Linked DNA regions of Homo sapiens. Changing the gene in region 3 together with the main gene of any one other region gives a genetic interaction. Each region holds a gene or a part of one and is shown on either strand. Other genes may lie near its edges.

Evidence for each region.
Region 1: changes in CAMK2G (region 3) and PTPRE together harm fitness more than expected from each alone (negative genetic interaction), as found in Homo sapiens cells (one large-scale study listed by BioGRID).
Region 2: changes in CAMK2G (region 3) and SLC5A5 together harm fitness more than expected from each alone (negative genetic interaction), as found in Homo sapiens cells (one large-scale study listed by BioGRID).
Region 4: changes in CAMK2G (region 3) and NPR2 together harm fitness more than expected from each alone (negative genetic interaction), as found in Homo sapiens cells (one large-scale study listed by BioGRID).

Annotation. Positions count from the first base shown.
Region 1 is NC_000010.11:127,913,597-127,917,160, reverse strand, and holds part of PTPRE (receptor-type tyrosine-protein phosphatase epsilon isoform 1 precursor), read right to left. Parts: intron 1-3,564. UniProt on the Homo sapiens protein: Isoform 1 plays a critical role in signaling transduction pathways and phosphoprotein network topology in red blood cells. May play a role in osteoclast formation and function.
Region 2 is NC_000019.10:17,878,425-17,881,988, reverse strand, and holds part of SLC5A5 (sodium/iodide cotransporter), read right to left. Parts: intron 1,158-3,564; coding exon of another isoform or gene 1,125-1,157; coding exon 1,036-1,124; intron 30-1,035; coding exon 1-29. UniProt on the Homo sapiens protein: Sodium:iodide symporter that mediates the transport of iodide into the thyroid gland. Can also mediate the transport of chlorate, thiocynate, nitrate and selenocynate.
Region 3 is NC_000010.11:73,811,982-73,815,600, forward strand, and holds the end of CAMK2G (calcium/calmodulin-dependent protein kinase type II subunit gamma), read right to left. Parts: intron 3,267-3,619; coding exon 3,034-3,266; 3' UTR 3,022-3,033; intron 2,525-3,021; coding exon of another isoform or gene 2,463-2,524; 3' UTR 520-2,462; downstream 1-519.
Region 4 is NC_000009.12:35,790,269-35,794,436, reverse strand, and holds the start of NPR2 (atrial natriuretic peptide receptor 2 isoform 1 precursor), read right to left. Parts: upstream 2,847-4,168; 5' UTR 2,029-2,846; coding exon 1,362-2,028; intron 540-1,361; coding exon 334-539; intron 1-333. UniProt on the Homo sapiens protein: Receptor for the C-type natriuretic peptide NPPC/CNP hormone. Has guanylate cyclase activity upon binding of its ligand. May play a role in the regulation of skeletal growth.

The DNA.
Region 1 (3,564 bases), about 54 Mb from region 3:
TCACCCTGGCCGAAAACTGCGGGGCCTTGGTTCTCACTCTCATCCTCTCACCCACATGGTCATGTTGCCTATAAATCCAACCTGCTGAGTCGGTTTCCCCCGTCACCTCCATTCTGGCTTTCCACACACAGCCAGCAGGGGACCCCTTCTCAAACTCACAGCTGAGCATGCTGCTGGGCTCTGTGGGGCTGGCCAGGCCGCACAAAGGGGACACACCTGGAACCTGTGAGCCTCAGGATGGGGGGAGGGGTGTTAGGAAAGACTTGCTGAAACTATACAAATGACTGTGTGCACACATGCGTTTTTCTGGAGAATGAGTCCATAGTCTTCCCTAGAATCACAAAGGGGGTCATAATTTAAGACACGGTAAGAACTGCTGGTCCGTCACACAGAATCCAGACTCCTGGATGGTGTACAAATGTTTGGGTGATCCTTAAACTTTCCACCTTTTTGTCCCATCCCCTCTGTCCCTGGGCTCCAGCTCCATGCAGACACCTGCTCTTCCCCAGACAGGACACACCGCTTCCTACTGCCAGGCAAGCACATGGTAGCCCCTCTGTCTGGAATGCTCAATCCCTGTCAGCTGCCTAGGAAATGGCCCAGTAAACCAAGCCTGCTTGTATTAGTCTGTTTTCATACTGCTATAAAGAACTGCCTAAGACTGGGTAATTTATAAAGGAAAGAGGTTTAATTGACTCACAGTTCAGCATGGCTGGGGAGGCCTCAGGAAACTGACAATCATGGTGGAAGGGGAAGCAAGGCACCTTCTTCACAAGGCGACAGGAAGGAGAAGTGCACAGTGAAGTGCACAGTGAAGTGAAGGGGGAAGAGCCCCTTATAAAACCATCAGATCTCATGAGAACTCACTCACTATCATGAGAACAGCATGGGGGAAACCACCCTCATGATCTAATCACCTCCTACAAGGTCCCTCCCCCAACATGTGGGGATTACTATTTGGATTACAATTCAAGATGAGATTTGGGTGGGGACACAGAGCCAGACCACGTCACTGCTCTACCTGGGGAGGCCCTTCCATGTCTCCCCTCCTCCACAGGAGCATCCAGCATCACATTTAACACTCCCTGGAAGTGAGTTCTGTCTTCCTGTGGACCTGGAGCATCCACAGGATGTCACAAGCCATCGTGCCTTTTTTTTTTTTTTTCCCTGTAACTCCAGCGCTAAGCACAGTGCTTGTACGTACGGATGCTCCTGGGCTTACAGTGAGGTCATATCCTGATGAACCCCTTGTAAATAGAATATATCATAAGTTTAAAATGTACCCAATGCCCAATAAACCCATTGTAAGGTTGAGAAACTATAATAAAACCATCATAAGTTATAGATCCTCTATATACTGTAGGTAGTCAATAAAGGTTTAATACTTCCATTTGTTCCTTCTAAATGATATTACAGACTCTTAAACACTATTTACATTTGATGAAAACCAAAAAATATCCTTTGAAAGAATGTTGTTGGCTAGCTAAGAATAGGCCTGGCTTGGCACAACACAGTACAAAATTATTAAATTTCTGGCTCTTGCATTTTTATATTACTTTGGGTCCAAATCTGGACTTTGCGCAAAAGAATTTAAATGGACAGACTGATAACATCTCCAGTAGATGACTGAACTTTAGCTGATGTTTGCAACCTTGGCAAAAAGTAATTTATTGAATTACTGAAGCACTGAACGAAGGGCTGCTATGAGCTTAGGAAAAGAGAGCGCTTAGTCAACAGCAGTTCAAAATTAAGGACGAGGTTACTGGTTCAGAGTACTTTTTTGACCAGTACTTAAATGTCCAACTGTTTATGAAACTAAGGTTGCTTTCAGAAAGAGGAAAACCATACTGGAAAAAAAGTGTTAATCACAATGAAAAATTTTACTAGTAACAATGTAAGTTTTGGGATGATTTGAAATAATGTGGCTGGAAACAGAAGTTTCTTTTTTTGATAAGTAGACTTCCTAGTGCAACTAGGATTGTACAGGAGTTTTATTTTTACATATTTAAGATGCTAAAATGTGTTATTCTCTTTGGAAGAGCATTTACATGCTTTCTATTCATTAAAGTAAGTACCGGAAGGCAACGTTTTGTTGGCCTGGATTGAGTTACTATAAATCCTCGAATTTAATAAAAATCCACAATATTCAGGCTTTTTATTAATTCATACTGATTTCCTCCCCAGGAATTTTAAGAGAGCTTCTGCTTCAGAGATTCAGAGTGTTTGGGTCTGAATATTAGCTCCACGCCCTGACATGAGGATATGCCACCCCTGTGCTCTCTGAAATTGTCCTGGGTCAATCCTTGGTCCTTATCTCGTGCCCAGCAAGCAGGGCTCACATTCCAGGTTGAAAGGGAACTTCCAGGTCTCCTCGGTTGACAAGATTGGAAGATAAAAGCTCACCATCTGAGAAGTGCTTTCTCTCCTACGTCTAGAACAGTGGGAAAGCGCCCTGAAGAGAGGAAGGATTTGGAAAGAAACACCGACATCTGTAGGAAATATTCTGTGCTGAAAACCAACCTGTTAGTTGAATTCACTAGCAGGTCTCTCTGGAATCAAGAAAACAAGCTGGAGAATTCCATAGGGAGGATTTACTTTGTCTTCCCCAGAGGAGGCTGGAGGCCTTCCCACCTCCAAAGATCCATCCCATGTTACCTCAGTAACAACCTAGCCTTTTTCTGAAAGTGTGTTTTATAACAAGTGGATGGGGTTAGAAGAGTTAAGAGTAGAGCCTATCCTGGGAAGTATGATAGTGTCAGAAAAACAGGCCACCGGTGTCCGCAAAGCCTGTATTTCCACCTGTGCTGTGTGTGTCAGTCTGTTCTTGCATTGCAATAAAGGAATACCTGACGCTGGGTAATTTATAAGGAAATGAGGTTTAATTGGCTGATGGTTCTGCAGGCTGTGCACAAAGCATAATGCTGGCACCTGCTTCAGGTGAGGCTCAGGAAGCTTCCAATCAAGGCAGAGGGAGGGAGCCAGCATGCCACACAGTGAGAGTGGGAACAAGAGAGAGAGTGGGTGGGGGGTGCCACATTCTTTAAAATGACCAGATATCATGTGAACTAGCTGAGCAAGAACTCACTCATCACTAAAGGGATGGCGCTAGTAATCATGAGGTACCTGCCCCCATGATCCAATACCTCCTACCAGGCCCTACCTCCAACGCTGGGGACCACATTTCAACATGAGATTTGGAGGGGACACACAGCCAAACCATATACTGTGTTTCCAACAACAGAATAAAAAGCTTTACCCCATGACAAGGATTTCAGACCAAAAGGCTGGTGGATGAGGTGGGGGCAGGGTAAAGAGGAGAGTCCCAGGGTCGGACATCAAATTGTGGAAGTAGGTGTCCACCTCTGAGGCCAGCCTCTTAATAAACTGGAGAAGAAAGGAAGGCTGGAGCTCCCTAGAGTTTCACCGGGAACCTGCCTGGACAGGAGCTTCCATTTCGTCTGGGCTGTGCTTGGTGGGTGCGTTCCCGACCCTCAGAGCGCCCTTGTGCATGTTAGCCGAGGAGTCAGGGCCAAGCCTGTGGACAGCAAACCAGTCTGCACCGCA
Region 2 (3,564 bases), on a different chromosome or scaffold from region 3:
CCATAGCATTGATGCTGGTGGATGCTGTGCTGTGTGAGGAAGGCAGCGGGGGGTCCTCAGGCCATATGGAGAGACCGTCCACACCATCTGGCCTGCCAGACCTCACCCAGCCTGAGGGCAACGGTGGGGGTAACCCAGTCCTGCAAAGGTGAAGGAGATATTTGCCCCTCCCCTCCCCGAAGACCTGAGACATCCCTACAGGAGCAAGGACACCTGTGACCAAGGGCAGGTGGGACAGACAGGTGGGTTCTGGTTCCAGAGGGACTGCAGTCACATGTGGGAGATTTGCAAAAGGGACAGTGAGGGCATGTGACCAGAAGTCCCGGAAGAGTGGAAACCACCTGAGTGTGTGGCCTTGGAAGGCAGAAGCAGGGGACTGCTTGGTCATGGCTGTGCCCCAGGGTTTAGAACAACAGTACCTGGGCTGAGCACGTTGGCTCATGCCTGCAATCTCAGCACTTTGCGAGGCCAAAGCATGCAGATCACCTGAGGTCAGGAGTTCAAGACCAGCCTGGCCAACATGGCGAAACCCCGTCTCTACTAAAAATACAAAAATTAGCCGGCTGTGGTGGCGTGGACCTGTAATCCCAGCTACTTGGGAGGCTGAGGCAGGAGAATTGCTTGAACCCAGGAGGTGGAGGTTGCAGTGAGCCGAGATGGCACCACTGCACTCCAGCCTGGGTGACAGAGCAAGACTCCATCCGGAAAAAAAACAAAAAAAAACAGTACCTGCCACATAGTAGATGTTCAACAAATATTTGTCTGGGGAGGAAGGAAGGAAAGAAGGAAGAAGAAGAGAGGAGAGTCAGGCGTGGCCCTGACAGGTGATAAGAAGGTAAACCCTTGCAGTTGGGGTCCCTGTGCCCAGGGCATGCTCTCTGCCAGCGCCTACCTGAGCTGTCTTCTAGGGATCAAGCAGGAACTGGGACTGATGGACAGGTCCAGAACATTCCATGCCCCAGAGGGATGGCAGGCCAGGATAAGGAGGCTCCCAGGGGCTGAAATAATGCTCCATGAACAAGCAGGGGTGCTCACCTGAGGGTGCCACTGTAAGCACAGGCCAGGAAAAGCCCGGGGACTCCAGGCAGATCTTCGAAGATGTCCAGCACCAGCAGAGGCATGTACTGGGGAGAACTGGGGGTCAGCCTCCCAGACAGCTGCACCCCGAGGACCGGGGCATCTATCTGTCCTGATGCTGCACGTCCCCAGCACCCAAGACGGACAGGGCTCAGAGTCGGCATTTAATATGCATTTAGTTTTTGTCTGTGGTTTTGTTTTGTTTTGTTTTGTTTTGAGAAAAGATCTTGCTCTGTTGCCCAGGCGGGAGTGCAGTCCCATGAATGTGGCTCACTGCAGCCTAGAACTCCTGGGCTCAAGCGATCTTCCTGCTTCAGTCCCCCAGTAGCTGAGACCACAGGTGTGCGCCACCATGCCTGGCTAATTTTTTTAAATTTTTGTGTAAAGATAGGGGTCTGGCCGGGCAGGGTGACTCACGCGTGTAATCCCAACACTTCGGGAGGCCGAGGCGGGTGGATCACTTGAGCTCAGAAGTTCAAGACCAGCCTGGCCAACATGGTGAAACCTCATCTCTACCCAAAATACATAAATTAGCTGGGTGTGGTGGTTGGCACCTGGAGTCCCAGCTACTTGGGAGGCTGAGGCAGAGGAATTGCCTGAATCTGAGAGGTAGAGGTTGCAGCGAGCGGAGATCGCGCCGTTGCACTCCAGCCTGCACAACAGAGCCAAACTCTGTCTCAAAAAAAAAAAAAAAGAAAGAAAAGAAAGAAAGGCCGGGCACAGTGGCTCATGCCTGTAATCCCAGCACATTCAGAGGCTGAGGCAGGTGGATCACCTGAGGTCAGGAGTTTGAGACCAGCCTGGCCAACATGGCAAAACCCCACCCCTACAAAAAATACAAAAAAATTAGCTGGGCATGGTGGCGCATGCCTGTCATCCCAGCTACTCGGGGGCTGAGGCAAGAGAATGGCTTGATCCTGGGAGCCAGAGGTTGCAGTGAGCTGAGGTTGCGCCACTGCACTCCAGCCTGGGCAACAGAGTGAGACTCTGGCTCAAAAAAAAAAAAATTGTGTAAAGATGGGGTCTCCCTATGTTCCTCAGGCTATAATGTGCATTTGTTGATCAACTGCATGAACCTGAGAATTGTCCCTGAGCCCCACTGTGTTCTGAGCCCTGGGATCCCTGTGAAGCAGGGACCCGTGTCATCCTCATTTTATTGATGAAGACTGTGAGGCAGAGAGTACAGTCCCTCCCTGAAGTTACACAGTCCAGCAGTCCCGGATCTGACCTCCAGGGAGGACTGCAGATGGGGTGGTCCCCCGTACCCTCTGCTAACTCTGAACCCCATGGTCAGAACTCTACTTGGGGTGTGACCTAGGCATGGGTCCTGGCACCGCCCCCCGACTTGCCCATTGACCTCAGGCAGTGACTTCCCCCCGAGCCTCAATTTCCTCATCTGTAAAGTTGGAGCCGTGACTGCCCTGCCTTTCTCAGAAGAAAGATTAGATGGAGAACTAACTGCTGGTGAAGGGAACAGCATGAGGCACAGAGTGGACGCTTGGGACATGGGAGACCAGAGCTGTCATTATTATTATCACCAACATGATTAGTTCCCGCTGGATTACAGTTTTTGTTTTTGTTTTTGTGGGTTTGTTTTGTTTTGTTTTTATTTTTGTTTGAGACGGAGTTTCTCTCTTGTTGCCCAGGCTGGAGTGCAATGGCGCCATCTCAGCTCACCGCAACCTCCGCCTCCCAGGTTTAAGCTATTCTCCTGCCTCAGCCTCCCGAGTAGCTGGGATTACAGGCATGCACCACCACACCCGGCTAATTTTGTATTTTTCAGTAGGGACGGGGTTTTTCCATGTTGGTCAGGATGGTCTTCAACTCATGACCTCAGGTGATACCCCTGCCTCAGCCTCCAAAAGTGCTGAGATTATAGGCGTAAGCCACCGCGCCCAGCCTTGTTTTGGTTTTTTTTTTTTGTTTTTTTTTTTTTTGAGATGGAGTCTCTCTCTGTCACCCAGGCTGGAGTGCAATGGCGCGATCTCTGCTCACTGCAACCTCCACCTCCCGGGTTCAAGCTATTCTCCTGCCTCAGCCTCCCGAGTAGCTGGGATTACAGGCATGCATCACCAGGCCTAGGTAATTTTTGTATTTTTAGTGGAGGGGGGTTTCACCATGTTGGCCAGGTTGGTTTCGAACTTCTAACCTCAAGTGATCTGCCTGTCTCGGCCTCCAAAAGTGCTGGGATTACAGGCGTGAGCCAACATGCCCGGCCTGGGTCATGGTTTCATCTCCTCCTGAGCATCTCCCAGGGGATCTTTGGAACTCTCTGGAACTCTAGATCTGAATGTGGCCCTTGTCTGCTCACACCTACTGAGGGCGGTCCATTGCCTCCCAGACTCACCTTTCCCATTCCTTGCAGATCCTCCTCTGAACTCTTTATTTTATTTTATTTTATTTTTTTGAGACAGAGTCTCACTCTGTCATCCAAGGTGGAGTGTAGTGGTGCGATCTCCCTTCATCGCAACCTCCGCCTCCCGGGTT
Region 3 (3,619 bases):
AGGCCCTCAGCCGGCTCCCAGGGCACTCACCCTCCCTCCCCGCCCCGCGTCGCCTGCGCAGCACCGAGCGCTGTTTGGAGGCTGTTTATGAGAAGTTTTTTTTTTTTTTTTTTTTTTTTTTTTTTTTTTTTGAGACGGAGTCTCACTCTGTCGCCTGGGCTGGAGTGCAGTGGCGCGACCTCGGCTCACTGCAACCTCCCCCTCCCAGGTTCAAGCGATTCTCCTGCCTCAGCCTTCCGAGCAGCTGGGATTACAGGCGCCCGCCACTATGCCCAGCTAAATTTTTTGTATTTTTTAGTAGAGACGGGGTTTCACCATATTAGCCAGGCTGGTCTCGAACTCCTGACCTCGTGATTCGCCCGCGTCGGCCTCCCAAAGTACTGGGATTACAGGCATGAGGAAGTTTTATTCTCAAAAGTACCCAAAGGGAGTAGGAGGAGGTACTCTCTCCAACCTGGTAAGCCAGGCTGCTAAAATCTACGCCTCTGGCCGTAAACCTCCAACAGCAGTAACACAATGGACTGTTTAAAGGTTATTTTATTAAATATTTTCAGTTCAAGGTTTCATTGTAACAAAGCTATGAAGGGTCTACCAACATTCAGAACAAACACTATTTTTAAATTATTTCTATGTTGTCATGCAAAAATTCTGCATCAAATGCCTTCCGTTTCTTGTTTAAAAGGTGATTTTTTAATAGTCTATTGTCTATAGATGCTGACATTAGCCCCAGAAGAGGAGTAAGAATGCTAAGAAGTGGGGCTGGAGCAGCCATATGAAGCTATGGGTCTCAATGAATTCTAAGACCATTTGTCTTCAAGCCAGCAAAACGAAACCCTGTGGTGAAGGGATTTGCGTGCTGGCACTGCAGACTGCAGGGCAGGAAAGGGCTAGGGCCCAGGGGCTGGGACATGCATGAGGTGCTCGGAGGAGCCTGGCTAAATCCAAGCACCAGCACCTGTGAGTCTGCTCTCTTCTCAGCTGGCTCCCAAGTAAACCTGTAGCTTTGCCTCTTCTCCCAGCTCTCGTGCCTCCTGAAGGTAGTCCAGGGAACTGGAATCTACCCACCTTTCCCCCAAAAGTGGAGATGTTTGTGCAGATAAATCTGCAGCGTTGTTTTGAGGGAAACCAAGGCCATGACCAATTGCTCCTCCATTATCTTCTTTGCTATCTGCTTAGGGTATAGATCTCTTCCTCCTGGAATGGAACTCCTTGAGCACAGAGAGGGACAATGAAGGTAGAAGCCTTGGCTCTGGACACCTCTTTTGGGTTACATGCGGGGAGGGGTGATGCCCATGCAGATTGTCCAGCAGTAAGTCTATACTTCAGTTGGTCAGTAAAGAGGCCTCTGTAAGGACACCTCTTCTTCTTGCCAGAGCAGTCAGGTCAATCTCAAAGACAGGAAAAGAGATGGACGTGCAGCAAGGAAGAATAAGAAGGGAGGCAGCCCCAAAGGCAGCCTGAATGCATAGAAACGACCACCACCTCTTCTCCCACTGCCTCACTCCTCCCATCCCACAGGGGCACTTGGCAGAGGGCCCAGGCCCAGATGAGGGTCAGCATGGGGACCACTACCGTGAAAAGGCAAGACAAAGATGGTCCAGATCAGCACAGAAACAGAACCGCCAAAGGCGGCACGGGAGCCCTGACCAGGGCCTGGCTCTCTCCTTGCCAGGTTAGAAGAAAACACGAAGCAAAGCAGCAACAACCCCTCCCCCTCCTAGCTGCAGGGATAAGGCCTCAATATTAGGGCCCACATGCATTGTGCATCCTATAGAAATGGATGAGTGAGTGCATGTCAGACTAACACGAGGTTTCTCATCGGCTTCATGGCGGGTACACTTCTGCAGCACCAATTCTCTTCCCTTCTACACTAAACAAGACAGTACAGCAACGTCCGGGCTCTCAGTCCTGAGGCCACCACTTCTCAGCTGCCTCCACAGCAGGCTGGGAGCTCTGCGTTCTCTCCCAAGTAGGTCTGATGGTCACGATGTTCTCATCAGCCCCATTCTAGGCGCCTATGCAAGTTCCAAAGAAGTTCATTCCTAGACCTGGGGTAAGCAGGCCACCTCAGGAGCTGCAATCACATCACGGCCCCCAAAGCTCTGTCAGAGTTCTTGCCTGGTCCCCCTAAGTCCATGGGGACCAGAGAGGCCAAGCTCACCTCTTCAAGGCCGGTGGGTGAGCCACTGCTCATGCCAGGATGGACCTCATACATACTCCTGCCTTCTTGCCAACCCAAGGGCTGTCGGTGGTTTTAAAACGCATCATGGTATGGATTCCTTTTTTTTTTAAACAATCTTTTTTTCTTTTTTTTTTTTCTTAAATGTAAAAAACACCTCGGTACAGCAGAGACAGACACGAAGGGCGGGCGGGAGGGCTGCATGCAGGGGCGTGCATTGGCTGCTGCCGCTTTTGTAATTGAATTGTTTTAAACCTCAAACAAACAGGACTGCCGCTGTCACTCAGGCCCTCCAGAGCCACTGGCTGCGAAGGTTGGACCTCCGGCTGGAATCTCCTAAAGCCCCTGTCAAACAGGACAGAATGTGGTAACAGAACAGAGGACAATGAGCACACAGATGAGTTCCAGCGACTTTAGCACGCTAAACACATGGCCAAGTCGGCCTGAGAAGGTGGGGAAAGTGGGTGAAGCTAATGCTTAAATACAAAACTGCCTCCCATTTGCTAAGCACTAACTAAGTGCTTTACTTATAGTATCTTACTTAATCCTCACAATGATTAAATGAGGTAGGCACCACTCTCTGCCTTTCTTTGACAGCTAAGGAAACAGTTTAGGGAGGGGAAGTAACCTGTCTGAGGTCATCCAATTTGGAGTCACGGAGCCAGACCCTAGTCTGTCTGATTTCCAAGCATAACTTATTGCAACCATTCTGCCAGGCTTTGCCAGTCCTCTGGGACGGCCCACACCTCCTCTCCCAGGACCACCTCCCAGCCTTCTCTTCTTCCTCTGACCCCACCTATCCCAGGCCCTTCCAGCCCCTCTCCCCCGTCAACCAGGTGCACCTGTGGCTGAGCTCACTGCAGCGGTGCGGCAGGGGCCCCTGAGCAGTGATAGTGGACATTGAGCCACTTGCCATCCCGACGGTGCCAGACCCGGGTCTCTTCTGACTGGCTGGTGCGAGGCCGACCCTGCCCGTCGATGTACTGGGTGAGGCGGATGTAGGCGATGCACGCTGCGTCCTCCCCAATCACGTGGACGTGTGGGTTTAGGATGGTGGTATGGATAGGCTTGCTGTTCTTGGACAGGACTGCAGGGCAGGGTGGGGTAGGTAAGAGGACATCAGGCCTGGGCACCTGCATTTTCCTCCCAGCCTGCACTTCCAAGTCTTACCATCTCCCAAGCAACCACTCCCAGAATCTCCAAGTACCGCCCCCCCCCACCCCCGAACCCCTGAACGCCCTCCAGAGGCCAGGATGCCACATTACATTAGTCTCCTTTATCCAAAAGGAACAGAAAGATGGGTAACAGTGACAGTACCTGCTGCGCTTTTAATCAGGCATTGTGCTGGGGTTTTACATGCCCGAGCTGTATTTCTTGGTGGATAATATTTTCTTCATTATAAGATGAGGAAATAGGCTCAAGGAATAATTTGCTCAAATC
Region 4 (4,168 bases), on a different chromosome or scaffold from region 3:
TCCATAAAGGGTGGAAGCCCACCCAAGGGCTAGGATCAGATCTCTTCCTGAACTTTTCTCCCCCACAATATAGCCTACTACTGGCACTTAGGAAAGTCAGTGTTTTAGGATTTTGGAGGCAGCCAAAGTCAGTCTTGGCAGCAAGCACACTAAGAGTCACAAAAGTAGAGAAGTAAGAAAGGGTGACACTAGACTCAGAATGCCTCTGTTCATTTTACTCCTGTGGCTCACAATTCCTGCCTGGTTCCTAGGGTTTCTTTAGGGTCTTGTGAGAGAGAATTTCCAGCGAAGCACCTCTTCCCCCTCCTCCTTCAGATTTGGCTCAAATGATACCTGAAAGGCCTCTCTGAGGGCCTGGGCCTGTTCCCGGGTGCGATTGTCCTGCCAGGGCCGGCCTGTAGCACGTGTGGGGCCTGCACGGAGACTCTCCCCAAAGACATCCAGGTAAAAGAAGACATAATCCCCATTGGTCAGATTCTCCCTCTGGGCCTGAAGCAGGATCTCATGCAGCATCTCCAGAGGGCCGCAGATATACACAACTGGGAGCAGGTACATGACAGAGGAGCACCCTGAGAAGGTATCCAGGTCCCCCACACAGCCCCCTCTCTGAATCACTGGGATGTCCCTCTTCAGCAAGAAAGAGAGTGCCCTAACCTATCAACCCCAAAGCAGATGCTCCCCAGCCCACCCCTCTTGGAGTCCACCATAAGTACCCTGGGGCCATATGGACCATCTGGCAGAAGTCAGAGCCTGTCCAGACCCCAGAGGAAGGGAGCTGTCACTCTCAAGCCCCTCCCTTTCCCAGAGCCTCCCTTGCTGCTCCCCACCCAACCGGCCTGCTCCCTGACTCTTCCCTGCCCTTCCCTGGGCTCAAAGGCACAGACAGCACAGATTTCTCAGTATGAGCTTTATCTGTCTTTCCCAAATCTGCTGAGCCCTGAGTCCGTTCATGGAGCCCTCATTATTTTTACACCACCAAGGGGTCTTGGCGCCCAGTCTGGGTGGTAGCTCTGATCACAGACAGGGCACATTTCAGAGTGGCTATCAATCACATTCACTACTCTAGGGCACAAACATTGCTCCCGAAACTTAATATCCCCTCATTTTCACATTCCACCTTGATACAAGGCTTCACCCCTCATGCTCTCTTCTTCCTTGTTTGCATCTGCCTAGGGTGTTCACAAGCTCCCATGATGAAGCCTTGGCCCTCTCACAGGTGCTCTGTCCACGTGTGCTTCTTGATCCCAACCACCACATACAGCTGCTCAATGCCTATCTCCATCTACAGTTCCCCAGTGCTGAGCTTTAGGGACACAGCGACCCTCCTCCCATGACCCTAAAATAGCCCAGGCCACACTCACTGCGCCCGTTGGCCCGGATGAAGTGGGTGGCCTGCTCGGGGCCCCCTGGCTCTCGGGCATACACCTGGTGCTGCACACTGAGGTTGCTGCCCTGCAGGGCCTCAAAGACGCCCTCGATGGTGAAGTAGTGAGGCCGGTCATCTGTGCGAGCATCCAGGTACAGCAAGGCAGCACGGGCAGTCCAATTGAAGTGCCCGTGTAGTGTCACCACAAACTCACCCAGCTTGGGAGCAGAGGGGCCAGTGCGAACCAGGGTACGATAATGGTCATTCTTAGCCGAAAAACCAGAGGCCACAGCACCCGCAGTCAGCAGGGGAAGGCGCCAGTGGGAGGCAAAGCGGGCCACAGAGGCAGCAGGGTACACGCAACCGGGACCTAACAGCAGGTCGGGGTCATGGTACAGCTTGAGGTCCACAGCGCTCAGCGGTGCCAGGTACTCAGAGCAGGCGCCTTCCAGTTCGGAGCTGACAAACCGCAGGTCCACGGGCAGTGCCCGGCCCAGAGCCTCCACAGCTAGTGCCACAGCGGGTCCCACCCGTGGCCAGGCCCAGGCATAGCTCAGGTTGTGTTCTGGCAGCACCACCGCCAGCGTCAGGTTCCGCGCCCCGGGAGGACGCACCCCACCTGCCAGGGCTGCCACCAACAGCAGAAGTGATGGCAGCGCCATGGGGATAAAGCAGCAGCCCCACCGCCCCCAGAACTTGGGGCTGCTCTGGCCTACAGGGGAGACGCGAGCACCCCCCAGCCTGGAGCCTGGGGAAGAGGGCCAGGAAGAGGAGGAGTAGGCTAGGTAGGCTGGGATGCAGAAGGTGCTGGGGGCCGGGGAGAGGAGGGGGAGATGGGAGGAAGGCGGGGGGCGGGCAAGGAGTGGGCTACCAGCCTAGGGCAAGGACTGAGGACTGAGAACGGGGTGGCAGGGGGAGGGAGGGACCGAGGGGGCCTGCGGCCAGGATGGGGACAGTGCGAGGTGAAGAAGCCTGATAAATCTAAAGCTGAGAAGGAAAAGGGGATCTGGGACTGGGATGGGGTGGGGGTGGGGGGCGGGTGGTACAAAGAAACGGCCTGGGGGAACCTCACAGCTGAAAGGGCCGGGAGGGCAGGAGGGCGCTGCGCCACATAGGACCAAGGGGGTAAGGTGGGAGGGTGCCCGCGCCGCGGAAGGACTGGGATCATGGGCAGGCGGGGAGCGAAGCGAGGCCTGGGCCGGAGGGCAGGGGAAGGCAGGGGTAAATCTCCCTGTGAAGGATTCTCCCGGAGCTCCTGCTTGGACTAACGGGCCCGGGCGCTGGTCCCATCCGGAGCTACGGCGGCCCCGCCCGTGTCCCCGCTCCTCTCTGCTCCGCTTCTCCTGGGCCCTGGCGGCCGGCGCTGCCCGGCGCTTCCTCCCGCCCCCCGCCTGGGCCCCGCGCGCGCCGCTCGTCCGGGTCAGGTCGCCTCGGCCCGGCCCGTCTCCGCTCGCTGCGCCGGCGGCCGAGTGCGACTCCCCCGGGCAGGCCGCCCGCCCCCGCCCCTCCCCCGCTGCCTCTCCTCCTCCCTCCCGGCCCCACCCTCCGGCGCCGGCTGCCTTCCCCCACCCCCCACCCGGGCGCTCGGGACCGCCAGGTCCCAAACCCACCCCGGTGAGCACTTGGGGGCTCCGCACCAAGGCCTCGCCGGCCAGCAGGGTTCCCGGGCGCTCCCTCACTCTCAGGGCCTACCCTGGTCTCCCCCACGCCCCTGGTCCCCCTGCCGCCCCTCCTTCCATTTCCATCTCACACACGCCAGCGACCCCAGGGTTTGTCCTCTCCCCCTCGCTCAGCCCGTTCTTCTTGGGTCTCCCCTCTGAACTCCCTGAGTCCCTCAGTGGTTCCAGTCTCCAGGAAGCAGTCGAGGATCCCCAGACGTGTGGTATCCTCACCAGCCCCCTCACCTAGCAAACCATAGCGCCCTCCCGACGGCAGTGCGGCTTACTCCACCGCGGACCATGCCCGCTCCCTGGACGGGCCCCTCCAGCAGCCAGGGGCCCCTGCTGTACACTTCCCACCAGTCCTTAGAAAGTCCACGAGGCTCCTTCTTGCTTGGGACTCAACTCTCGGCCCCCCGCTGTCTCCATGCCCCCTGCCCTCCTCGTGTCCTCAGAGGCCCACCGCAGCCCGCCCGGCTTCCTCCGCACCATCTGCTCAGTCAGGGCCTCGATTTTCTTTTGTCTCCTGCACAGCGCAGGCTGGCGCCTGGGGAAAGCCTGTAACGGACCGGCGGGACACTCCCCGCAGTGGAAGCCCATCCACGCTCTCCTGGGGTTCCACCTTGCTCCCAGCTTCCCTTAGGAAGCTCTCCCTAGGGCCCTCATATCTGGAGTGCCAATCTGACCCCAAGAACAGCTTGTGAGGGATGATCTCATGGTGGCTGAGAGGGACTGCTATGGGACCTTGGGGATTTTTCTCCAACTGTCATAAAGGACATGCACATAAGCCCATTCTCTGCCCGCGCTAAGAGCCACGGTTTCTCTCCCCCCTTCAAGCTATTTCTCCAGAAATCACAAGCTAAGAGCGCTCCTGGAGCCCTGGAGTGGGGTGGGAGTGTATAGGGCGAGGACGGGCATGGTTTCCCTGAGATGAAGGCGACACCTAGTGGTTTGGTGGGGGAAATTAAGGACAATGCCACTTTATCCTTAGGCACGATATTTATTGAACACCGGCTGCCTAGCACAAGCTGTACCTGTGAATACAAAGAAAGCCGAATGATACAGCCCTTACCTTTGAGGAACATGCATTTGCAATCCCTGGGGCACAGAGGCCAAGAGCAGGCCGTCCCTAACAATGTTCTTG